2 linked regions of the Homo sapiens genome follow. The protein of the gene in region 1 interacts with the protein of each later gene in a biochemical or structural test. Each region holds a gene or a part of one and is shown on either strand. Other genes may lie near its edges.

Evidence for each region. Proteins that work in one complex are often made in the same cells at the same time.
Region 2: the proteins of TOPORS (region 1) and UBXN7 form a complex in vitro, tested with the Homo sapiens proteins (one study listed by BioGRID).

Annotation. Positions count from the first base shown.
Region 1 is NC_000009.12:32,542,566-32,549,597, forward strand, and holds part of TOPORS (E3 ubiquitin-protein ligase Topors), read right to left. Parts: intron 1,762-7,032; coding exon 1-1,761. UniProt on the Homo sapiens protein: Functions as an E3 ubiquitin-protein ligase and as an E3 SUMO1-protein ligase. Probable tumor suppressor involved in cell growth, cell proliferation and apoptosis that regulates p53/TP53 stability through ubiquitin-dependent degradation.
Region 2 is NC_000003.12:196,347,141-196,352,438, forward strand, and holds the end of UBXN7 (UBX domain-containing protein 7), read right to left. Parts: 3' UTR 522-5,298; downstream 1-521. UniProt on the Homo sapiens protein: Ubiquitin-binding adapter that links a subset of NEDD8-associated cullin ring ligases (CRLs) to the segregase VCP/p97, to regulate turnover of their ubiquitination substrates.

The DNA of each region.
Region 1 (7,032 bases):
CCAACTGCTATCTCTAGTTCTTGATCTCTTTTTGTCTCTTCTCCCTCTAGGTCTGCTACTTTCCCTGCTTCTGGATCGTTTACTTTTCATTCTTTTCTTCCCATGATGCTTTCTATGATTCTTCTGATCATGCCCACTTCTACTCTGAGAACGTGAATCTGAACTTCTTGATCTTCCCCTCTTTCTGTGTCTATGGTTATATGGAGAATATACTCTGTCTCCTCTTACAGATGAGTTCAGGTTTCTGGGAGATGACAATGATGTAGATCGTTTCTCTTCCTTCTTTGATTTGATTCTTGTACTAGAATCACAATGACCTTTATTTATTTGTTCATCCTTTCCAAGGACAGAGTGTGGAGATGAGCATCTACTAACATCGCTATCACCAGAACTGTAAGATTGCTCCTGTTCTTGTGTCTTCACTGTCTCCATTTTCTCATAAGAACCTAAGTCCTCAGAATCAGAGGACAGTTCAACAAGTTCTGGGGTCCTCTCAGCTAGTGGTTTAACAAACCCAACAATGACACAATTATCTGAAGAATCATCACTGTCATTATTTAGGTCGTCATTGGTTTGTACTCCTTGTATCTGAGACGTGGCTCCTCCTGTGACAAGTTCTTCATCTGAACTGTCAGAAGTATTTAAAAGAGAAGACATAGTAACGTGTACCTGCTCTGAGCTTGAGTAAGATGGTCCTGGAGTTTCATCATCCCATGGTGCCTGACTAACAGTGGCTACATTAATATCCAGCTCTTGGGTCTCAGCCTCATCTGGAGATATTGTTATGACTGAAGAATCAGAATGGCTGCCTTCTTCGTATGAAGGAGCAGGGCAATCATAATTGGCATGCTGGTCAAAGGCTGCCATGTTAAAAGGAGATCGGGCAAAACTGATAAATTCATGTATAAAATGCTCAGTTCGATTAAGTAAAAATGGTCTTAAATCAGACACAAATGCCTGACTCTCCAAGTCATAGCGAGTAACATTACTCATGATAATATGCTGGACAATATTCACTAAAGATCCATGAGCTCCAAAAAGAACTGTAAGTTCACGTTTTAACCAGGGGACTAATCTGTGAAGGCAAGCTGGATTTCTACGGAAAAATTCAGCTGAAATATCCCTGTAGCGGCCACCATCTTCAATATTTCTAACTCGAGCACCAGCACGATAAAGAGTTCGTCTAAAATTAATAATATCTTGTTCTTGAATTTTCCGCAAAGATCTTTCATCTGCCGTAGTTGGCCTCCTTACTGCAATCTGTCTCATAAACTGAGGAATTTCAACATCTCTAGGTCTTGTTGAAATGCCTAACCCTTCAAACAGTACTCCACTATCCGGTGGAGTTGTTGTTCTTCTGTTCACAGGACCACTAGGTGAATACACAGAAGCATTTCGTTCCCTTGTCAGAGTTGTACGGTAGCGAAATCGTCGATCAGGGGTGACAAAAGAACCATTATACGAAGGCCTTAGGACATACTCCTTGAAGTCATCTTCTGCCCTCACAGAATGGAAAATAGAATCAAAGGGCTGTTTACATAGTGGGCATTCAGCTTTGTTTTTTGACCACTCCTGTACACAGCGAAAACAGAACTTATGTAAGCAGCGATCTAAGTAAGACACATTATCAAATCTATCCAAGCATATAGGACACTTAGAATCAGGAGATGCATCAGCTGGTACTGTCTGTTGCAATTTGCTAGTGCCAGCTTTAGGTGAAAAGTTGTCCATTTTAAATTCCTTAGCAGCTGATGCCATTATCTGTAAAAGGGAAAGAAATATATCAGTAACCTGATAATAGAGGAATGACTAAATAGTCTCAACAAAAATGCAAATAAAGACCTTGAAACTTATTTTGGTGAAAATACTTAAGTGACCCATTACTTTTGTTTTATTTTATAAAGGGGCACTGTAGCATAGTAATATAGTGCTTAAAGCATAAGCTCTGAAGTCAGATTTCCTAAGACTGAATCCTGGTTCCACACTACCAGCGTGACTATGTGCCAGTTAGTATCTCTGTGCTTTAATTTCATCTGCAGGTCAGTGATAACAGAATCTGCCTTACAGGGTTTGTGAAGATGTAAAAAGCCCTTAGAAAAGGCACCTGCTACATAGTAAAGCTCTCAAATATTATGTAACATTCTATTATTCTTTTTAAAAATAATTTGAGAAATATCTGACATATAAAAAAAAAAAGTACCAAATACCCATGTATCCACCACTTATGTTATGCCCCTTATCTTCCCCTCCTATCACTCTCTAGAAAACAAAAAACAAAAACACCACACTCCTCAGTTGATGTTATTTCTATGCATGGCTTTATACCTTTCATATACATATGCCACTAACAATACAGACTACTGATTTATCTGTGATATTTTGTATGTACTTTTCTAAAACAACTTTGGTGACATAACTTACATACCAGAAAGTTCACCTGTTTAAACCAATCCTATGATTTTTAGTGAAAGATTCTTTTTTCAACCTTAGAAAGCTAATTTTAAAAAGGGAGAGGAAACTTTTAGTGAAGATTAAATAATAAATGAAAAAGCAGCCAAGAGGCAGTGCCTGGCTCACAGTAGGTGCTGAGTAAATGTCAGCTGTTATTATTACTACACTATTATATTCAGTTAATCACTCATTCCATTCAGCATTCCTAATAAGCCTTCCTTTAGCTTTTTTCTTTAATCCAAAAGTCAGGCCACAGAATATCTTGAAATCATGTTTTTGGTCCCCTTCCCTATTATCCTTTCCCATAAGGATGACTAGAATATTAAAGATTAGTTTGTTTTATCAGTTTACATTGGCTCAAAACTTTGCTAGAGCTTGAAATCTAGTATGCGTTTTGACTTTATCTCATAAACTCCAAAGCTGCATTTTATACTAATCATTTTGAGTATATTGACTATTGGGGAGTCAGGCGCGGTGGCTCATGCCTGTAATCCAGCACTTTGGGAGGCCAAGGCAGGCAGATCACCTGAGGTCAGGAGTTCAAGACCAGCCTGGCCAACGTTGTGAAACCTTGTCTCTACTAAGAATACAAAAATTAGCCGGGCATGGTGGCAGGCACCTGTAATCCCAGCTACTTGGGAGGCTGAGACAGGAGAATCGCTTGAACCCAGGAGGCAGAGGTTGCAGTGAGCTGAGACTGCACCATTGCAGTGGGTGACAAGAGTGAAACTCTGTCTCAAAACAAATAAACAAACAACAACAAAAAACTACTAGGCCCTTGGTTTCCCAGGGCCTAATATTCATCTTCCTCCACCTCCTTTATCACAGGAGGTTCCATCACTAGTCAACTGGGGTCAAGTTAATCAAATAACAGAATTGTAATTTTCTAAATAGACTCATTGGCCTTAACAAACTATAAGAAAAACCAATAAACAAAACCCACAACAAAAACTCATGACTGAAATACAAGTATTCCACCATAGCTTTCATATTAAACCTGCTCACTTTAGGGCATCTTGGCTTTCTCAGAACCATAACTTAATAGAGAATCAATTAATGCTAAATAAGCGTTTCTTCAGGGGTCCAGGTATGTCTAGTCTTCTATTTACTGGACTGAAAATGCAAAAACATCATCACTGTCCTGGAAGGTCTGGAAAAGCAGGATTATAAATACATAATACTGCTTTTTTGTTCATAAACAGTCTAAAACCCTAATACTGCACAACCTTCTCAGCATTTCCCTCTACTTTTAACATTTTTTAATCTGCCTACTCAAGAAATTTAAAGAAACACACACATAAAAATAAAAACCTTTCAGTTCAGAGACTGTGTGTGTGGTAGAGGGAAGGAACAGAGAAAAGTTGGGAGGGAATCAAAGAGGTTATCAAAAGATCTGGACTGAAGACCAGGCTTCACCTAGAACTAGCTCTAGTTAATGTGAAGAAAACCACATTACTCTAGACTTTAGTTTTCTCCTCTATATAATGAAGGGATTACTGGACTTGGAAAAAAGACCCGTGAATTCCAAGTTAATACATTTTATCTTCACTTAGTTCTCTGAAATAGAATTTTAGTGTTTTCTGAACACTTCCAGTTCACATAAAAATTACAGCTGAAAATGAATTTATTAAAGGGAATTATTAGGTAGTAAACTTGAAGTTCAAATAAAATAAAATCTCAACAAAGTATGATTTTTTTAAAAAAATGAAACCTTACCCTTCCCTTCTCTAGTTTTATAAGCCTGTTAACCACTTTGACAGTAAAAGGTGAATGAATGACTGGTAATGTCCTCCATAACAGGTTAAAAAATAATAATAAATTAGAATTCATTCTTGTATTTCTACACAGGAATCATTAGCTGAAAAGAATAATCTTAGCCGGGCATGATGGGCACACCTGTAGTCCCAGCTACTCAGGAGGCTGAGGCAGGAGGATTAACTGAGCCTGGGAGGTCCAGGCTGCAGTGAGCCATAATTGCACCACCTCACTCCAGCCTGGGTGACAGAATGAGACCCTGTTTCAAAACAAACAAACAAACAAACAAACAGTCTTCATCAGAAACATCAAAGAGGCGGGGCACGGTGGCTCACGCCTGTAATCCCATCACTTTGGGAAGCCAAGGCAGGAGACCCTTGAGGCCAGGAATTTGAAACAGCCTAGGCAACAAAGCGAGATCCAGTCTCTATTTTAAAAAAGAAAAAGAAACATCAAACAATTGGAATGCATGTAGATCAAATAAGTTATTAGCTCTTCAAAATCATCACTAAATACTAAATTAAAATGTTTTTTAAAACGCAAATGAAGTCGAACATATGACCCGGCAATTACACACCTAGATATACCCAAGGGAAACGAAAACTTGTCCACACAAAAAAACTGTATATGAATATTCACAGCAACTTTAGTCATAATACCTCAAAAGGAGAAACTCAAATACCCATCAATTGATTAACAGACTAATAAAATGTGGTCTATCCACACTATGGAATTTTATTTGGCAATAAAAAGGAACAAAGTACTGGTACCATGTTGTAACATGGATGAAACTTTTTATTATGCTAAATGAATGAAAAAAAAAATTCACAAGAACCCACATATTGTATGATACCTTTTATATGAAATGTCCAGAATAGGCAAATCTAGAGAGATGAAATGAGGCTGGTGGCTGCTGCTGGGGCAGTAAAGAGGTTTATTTCTGGGGTGATGAAAACGTTCTACAATTAATTATTGTGATGGTTGTACAACTCTGTAAATATACTAAAAAATCATTGACCTACAAACTTTAAACGGGTGAACTTTATGGATGGAATGTAATCTTTTATTTTATTTTTTTGAGACAGAGTCTTGCTGTGTCGCCCAGGCTGGAATGCAGTGGCGCGATCGTGGCTCACTGCAAGCTCCGCCTCCCGGGTTCACACCATTCTCCTGCCTCAGCCTTCCCAGTAGTAGCTGGGATTACAGGCGCCCGCCACCACGCTCGGCATTTTTTTTTTTTTTTTTTTTTTTTGTATTTTTAGTAGAGACGGGGTTTCACCGTGTTAGCCAGGATGGTCTCGATCTCCTGACCTTGAGATCCGCCCGTCTCGGCCTCCCAAAGTGCTGGGATTACAGGCGTAAGCCACCGCGCCCAGCCCGGAATGTAATCTTAACAAAGCTGTTTAAAAATACAAATTAAGGCATAAAAACTGGGATGACTAGATACAGATTAAGAGTGGTTGATTTGCTGGCCGGGCGCGGTGGCTCACGCCTGTAATCTCAACACTTTGGGAGGCTGAGGCGGGCAGATCACCTGAGGTCGGGAGTTCGAGACCAGCCTGACCAACATGGAGAAACCCGGTCTCTACTAAAAACACAAAAATTCGCCGGGCGTGGTGGCGCATGCCTGGAATCCCAGCTACTCGGGAGGCTGAAGCAGGAGAATCACTTGAACCCCCGGGAGGCGGAGGTTGCAGTGAGCCGAGATTACGCCACTGCACTCCAACCTGGGCAACAAGAGCGAAACTCTGCCTCACACACAAACACACACACACACACAAAAGAGTGGCTGATCTGCAAGAGACGTTCTGAATTTAAGTAGCAAAGGTAGACCCGATGAAAAACACAGTGCTTCAGGTTCTGTAAGAAGCCTGTGTTACGGGTTTTCCATCCTAGCACTCTAGGAATTAGGACATTTCCTCACAGGAGACAATCAGTTCTTCCAGTCACACTTCCTAAACTGTCTCCCAAATCCTAAATGAAGTTCACCATCTTTAGTATAAACTGATTAAGCCAAAACTTCCCTTTCCCGAAAAATCCTCAAATCTGGCTTTAACAAGGATAATAACAATTCGGGGAAATTTCAGCTAATTAATATGGACACACGTCTAGGGAAAATGGATGGGGGAGATAAAGAATCAGGAAGCTCGAATCTACATTTCAGGAGACTGGATATTTGAAAAACTGCACAATGATATAAACGAAGTATAACTGCTCTGTAGAATTAAAGTTAGACTTACTACAAAAGTCATCTATGGCCGGGCGTGGTGGCTCATGCCTGTAATCCCAGCACTTTGGGAGGCCGAGGTGAGCGGATCACAAGGTCAGGAGATCGAGACCATCCTGGCTAACACGGTGAAACCGTCTCTACTAAAAATACAAAAAATTAGCTGGGCGTAGCGACGGGCGCCTGTAGTCCCAGCTAGTCGGGAGACTGAGGCAGGGGAATGGCGTGAACCTGGCAGGCGGAGCTTGCAGTGAGCCGAGACTGCGCCACTGCACTCCAGCCTGGGCGAAAGAGCAAGACTCCGTCTCAAAAAAAATAAATCAATAAAAATCAAAAGTCATCTATGGCATACACTGTATATAAAATTTAATCATCTGCTGATTACATTTGCGGGAGTGATGTTAATTTTGCTGCAGAGCCAAGGCTGAGAATCGCCACCACTTAGTAGGTGTGTAACCTGGAGGAAGTTTTTTCTCAAAATCTCACGTTTTCTCAATTCTAAAATGGAATTGAAAAGGTGGTTGTGTGACGGGACATATTTCATAAAAACCCTTAGCACAGTGCTTGATGCACAGTAAGAACTCAACAATGTTCTCTAT
Region 2 (5,298 bases), on another chromosome or scaffold:
TCCTGACCTCAGGTGATCCGCCCATCTCAGCCTCCCAAAGGGCTGGGATTACATGCATGAGCCACTGCATCCAGCAGCAATAACAATTTCTGTCATACCATATAATCGTATCTCCTTTTTGCCCATTAATTTAGTAATTATCTTTCCTTCAATTAAGCTAAGTCCTTAATTAACCATTAGTAATTACTGCTGGTCTGAAAGAACAGACACTGAATATTCGCCCAAGTATGTCAAACACAGAATCATACTTACCTAACAAGCCTAGCTTACCCAATGTTTCTGTAACAACTGGACTAATATTTACAGAGTGTTTACCATGAATGTTTGACATACCACAAAGAGCAGAAAAAAGGCTAGCAAACGTTACACATAACAACGGGACTACAAAGTAACCTTTGTCAATCAATAGTAACTGACCTAAATGAGAACGTGAGGGGGCAAGCTTTTGGAATCTCAATTGTATTACTGAAAGTAATATCCAGAGTCTTATCTTGTAAAAACAACAACACAAAAAAAACTAATACTGAAAAGTTTTTGTTTTTATTTCCAAGATCAAATATTACAACAGGACATTTACATGTATTTATAAAAAAATGCAGCAGTTGAATGTATAGATCAGAGGTTTCCTTGAGTTTGGTCCCTCTCTCAGCACAGTGAGCTGATGTCTTCAAAAGACTTATCGTCCCACTCCCTTCCCTCCCCCACCCCATTGTCCCCCCACCCTCCCCGTTTCAAGTTGCAGTATTAATATAAAGCAACTGGGTACAACACAGCAAGAGTATTCACAATTTGGTACAGACCAAACCAGAGGATCCCCAACTGACAGCAAGATCCTCCTTCTGGAAATTATTACCTATAGACTAGGTAGATCTATAGGTAGATCACACCCAGTTATCTAAGATTTCCCTGGTTTTAGAGCAAGTGGAAGTTCCATTGAGTCTTAGCCAGTAGTTACAACTCTGCGTTACCTAATGGCATGTTTTTCTCCTCTTACAAGTTTAATTTTCTACCGCCTCCATGTGTCTTCAAATTTAAGGCTTTCCCAAGCACCTTTATTATGACTTACTAGATATACAGGAGGGTCTCTAATGTGTCTTGAACAAAAAAATTTAGTGGATGGTCCAGCTGCCCCTTGCTCAACAATCCCAAAGACTTCTTCCCACCACTGAGAAGAGCTGCAGAAATCAACGGTATCTCCTAGCACCATTGGAGAAAAGGCCCAGAAAACAGAATTCGATGTGCATTTTAGGGAGCACTTGCCAGAAACATTACAACAGGAGCACTGTCTCTGTTATCTTCTTGGATTCAATCACAAATTTAGAGTACAGATGAAATTTAGAGCCTGTCCTGCATTAAGAATGCAAATCTCAGTAAGACCACCCCCACACACACTTTGTCCAGAATAAGTTGAGCCACAAACATCCCAGGGAATCTCTAAATACTGTTAGGAACTGCTTTAGAAAACACTTTAAAGCAAATACCCCAAGTTGACTTCACTCAAGCCCCCAACCCACCCTCATCATCCCTATCCCCCTAGAAATTTCATTCCTTGATTAACTTCTCTGAGTAAGATGTAAAGTGAGGTTTGGAAAATGACATGAAACATGAAACATGTTTAAAAACACAATCAATGAAGACATGCCAGAACTGGACATCCCAGGTGACTTCAAATGCATTGTTCAAGCCGAACTCATACAAAGCATGCACAGAGCCTGCACAGACACTGCTGAGAGTTTCCAGGGAACAATCAATACCTACTCGAAAAAGGACTTTCCTGAAGGGCAAACAAAACAAAACAAAACAAAACAAAACAAACAAAACAAAAAGTAACACTGGATGTTTAGAATTTGTTAACAACAACAACAACAAAAAACCATTCTGGAAAAAAAGATTATCAGAGGAGTGAAGAAAACCGTGTCTAACAGATTCATGCCAAAGCTTGGATGGAAGCCCCTCAAAGTCTAAGTATCGTGTTAGCATCAACTGGTACTCATTTCTCTATATCTAAGACTAGAAGATTCTCTCACAGCTTTACTGTTTCCTGGCAAGTGTTTTCAACAGCCTTTCCAGCTGAAGGGACGAACCCAGGAAAGTAACAAGGCCCAAGACCCCACATGGGTCAGATAAGCAGCCCCTACTAGAAGCTTGCTACTCGTTAACTGAAAAGTGGAGGCCACGCACTACTTTCACTCTCTCTAGCAGGTGAAAGGGGATTTTCTGATGGCAACAGTCACTCCGTGTAAGGTTTAACTTACAGGGCAATAAGTTATCAAAAAGTTATTGTTAAAAGCATATGATTAGTGTCATAAACATATTTATATTTGGAATTACACCATTTGATATCTCCATTAAGAATGCAAAGCTTTGAGAAAAGCATACTGTAAAATCATGTTGCTGCAAACAGCAAGGCATCCAGCTGAGTGTAAGCAGTCTAATGTCATCAAACTGAAATGGACCCTCGTGACGGGCACTATGGAACCAGCTACCTAGATAGAGAGAAAAAAGGAGAATGGCAGGGAACGGTTCCAGATCAAGAATCTCTCCCTTATCAGTTAAGAGTTCCATACTGAGTCTATGAAAAAAGCAAATTAAAAAGATTTTAAGAAAGGGGGAATTCAATTCCAGGTCAGAATTTATCTAATGATTTGATATGTTTCCCATTTATCATGTCTAAAAAATGAATGACTCATGCTAACCCAGTTAGATTAATAACTTCTTTTGATGAGAAAAAATATTACTTAGGTTTAGTCCAGCTTAGCTTGACTATTCTTCCCATTTGAAAACCCAAATGACCTTTAGAAGGGATATAAAATACCCAGAGTATTGTGATCTCTAGAGAGGAAATACAATTAAACAATAAAAACTTGCTGTTTGTTGCCAAAGAATTAAGTACAATAATGCGACTTCTCATATTTATAGATTAATCTGTGATTGCTCTTGGGAAAAATACTATCATTGGTATTTGCCATCTCTAATCCTAGAAATAAATCTGGTTATCTTTTGAAAATACTTTCTCATTACAGGAATGCTAAATTATGTTTATTAAAGTAGTTCAAATTGGATTGCCCAACTTTATTTTGAAATCAATAGCAAAGAAAGGCCTGTGCCAAAAATCATCATGTTTATGAGAATATCTGCAATTTTAAGCAACACAACAGCAACTGGTAGGCCACAAAGAGGGTGGGGTATCACAGAGCTAGCCATTCTCTATATGAAACCAGAGAATTCTCCTTAACTAGGGAGAAAATGAGCTATAAAAGTAAGTTTGCCTCAAAAATGTCCTTCAATTTTATAAAAAATGAAGATTGTTACATATTAAGACTTTGAAATGGAATTTCTTAAACATAGCCAATTACACTAAAAATCATAACTATTTTCAGAGAATGAATGTTAAAAATAAATGGTGGAGAAGTAAAATGGAAAGCAGGATTAAAAGATTTCTAATTAAGGGTCTGTCACTTCACAGGACAACTAGCAAGGCCATTATAATCTCTATTTTTAAAAAGACATCAAGAAATTCTTGATTCTATACTGTCTCTCTAGCAGGACTGACACACAGGTGAGTCAAAAACCATAACCATCACTGAAATACCAAATCTCTATGTAACAGGAGAAACCGATATATTGGTATGGTATTCTCTGTTGGGTTATCTGCAGTTCTAAAGAACATTCTTGCCACTATTCTAAAATGTGTACAGTGCAACACCATGTTTCACGGCAAGACAATAACTGAAAAGCTAAGCCAGGCAATCCAGTGAAGTTGAATGTCCATAGTACACAGCTGTCTTTAGCCTATTCATCAAGGCTGGTATTACCGGAAAACTGCCATGTTCACCAGAAGAGCTGTCTCTTCCTATGCTCATTACATTTTAGTTTTACAAAGACTACTAATTCATCAGCCTGCACCCCATGATTTACTACTGCGTAGTTACATGATGGTCAAAAAAGGCAGAGAGACGGTAAGAATGACATAATAAAGATACATTCTGTGGAATAAAAAACATTTTTAAGTCAGCCTAATTGTATCTTTAAAAAGCTGTTTCTGCCAAAACCAGGTGTGAATCTTATACAAATCAATTTCCCAACAGGCCAGTAAAGTACTTTAAGTACACAAGTAAAAATAAAATTTAGTGCCAGCGTTAGTGTCATATTTGGTTCTCATTTACATTTTAGTCATACTCAACACTGATTAGGCACACAGCATTAAGTTTTAAAAAATAATGAATTGTTTACAAGATTATTATTACTAGACCTATAACTACTATACTCTCCTCTTTGGAGATTTCAGTCATCGCAGTAAGATTAAGAGCAAGTTGTTGGTCAAATGATACCTGAACACAGAATAAAAAAAAGAGAGAAAAAAAAAGTAAAGAAACTGATTAACCAGCACACTTTTAATTAGCCTAGGGATAATACGCAATCACGGGGAGAGACTGGAAGCATGAAATTTTGGAAAAGGACTTCAGAGATAATCTAATTTGTTGTTCTAGAAAAGGCTGAGAACTATTAATCTAGTCCAATTATCTCATTTTTCAGACGAGAAACCAGAGATTAAGAAGAAAGAGAAGTGTGAAGGTAACAACTAGCAGAGCTGTTACCCAAAGGGCTCTCACACCTCCAGTGCCCTTTCTGCATATAACATATACTATACTATGCATTGGATTTGTACCTGGGTAGAGAAATTAAATCTTTCCTTCATTTTTCGGTTGCTAGTGGCTCCCTCTGGTATTTTCCCTAAGTGTGCAAGTAAGATTCCTGCGAGCTAGGAATCTTTACTCCGGGGGATCAATAGTGAGATCCCCGCAAGCTAGGAATCTTTACTCCAGGGATCAATAATCCTTTCCTACTTGGGTACTGGTTATGCCTTAGTGGCAGAACTTCATGCCCCAAATCTAGAAGTTACAAAAGGTGGAGCTAAAGAAAAAGGTGAGTCAAAAGAAAACGTGAGCTACAGTGCTTGCCACTTCAGTCTTGTTTAAGACTTTGCTAACTAAAACATATTCTTCCCTTTTTCTAAGTTTGAACTAATAGGTAAACATTTACATGCTCTCCAATTATTTCATGTGTAGTGTGTCTCTCTAACTGGATAAAACAGGCAGGAATCATATCTTATTTATTATTTTTTGAGACAGAGTCTCGCTCCATTGCCCAGGATGGAGTGCAGTGGTGTGATCTCGGCTCACTGCAACCTCCGCCTCCCAGGTTCAAGAGATTCTTGTGCCTCAGCCTCCCCATTAGCTGGGATTACAGACAGCCACCATGCCTGGCTAATTTTTGTATTTTTCAGTAGAGATGGGG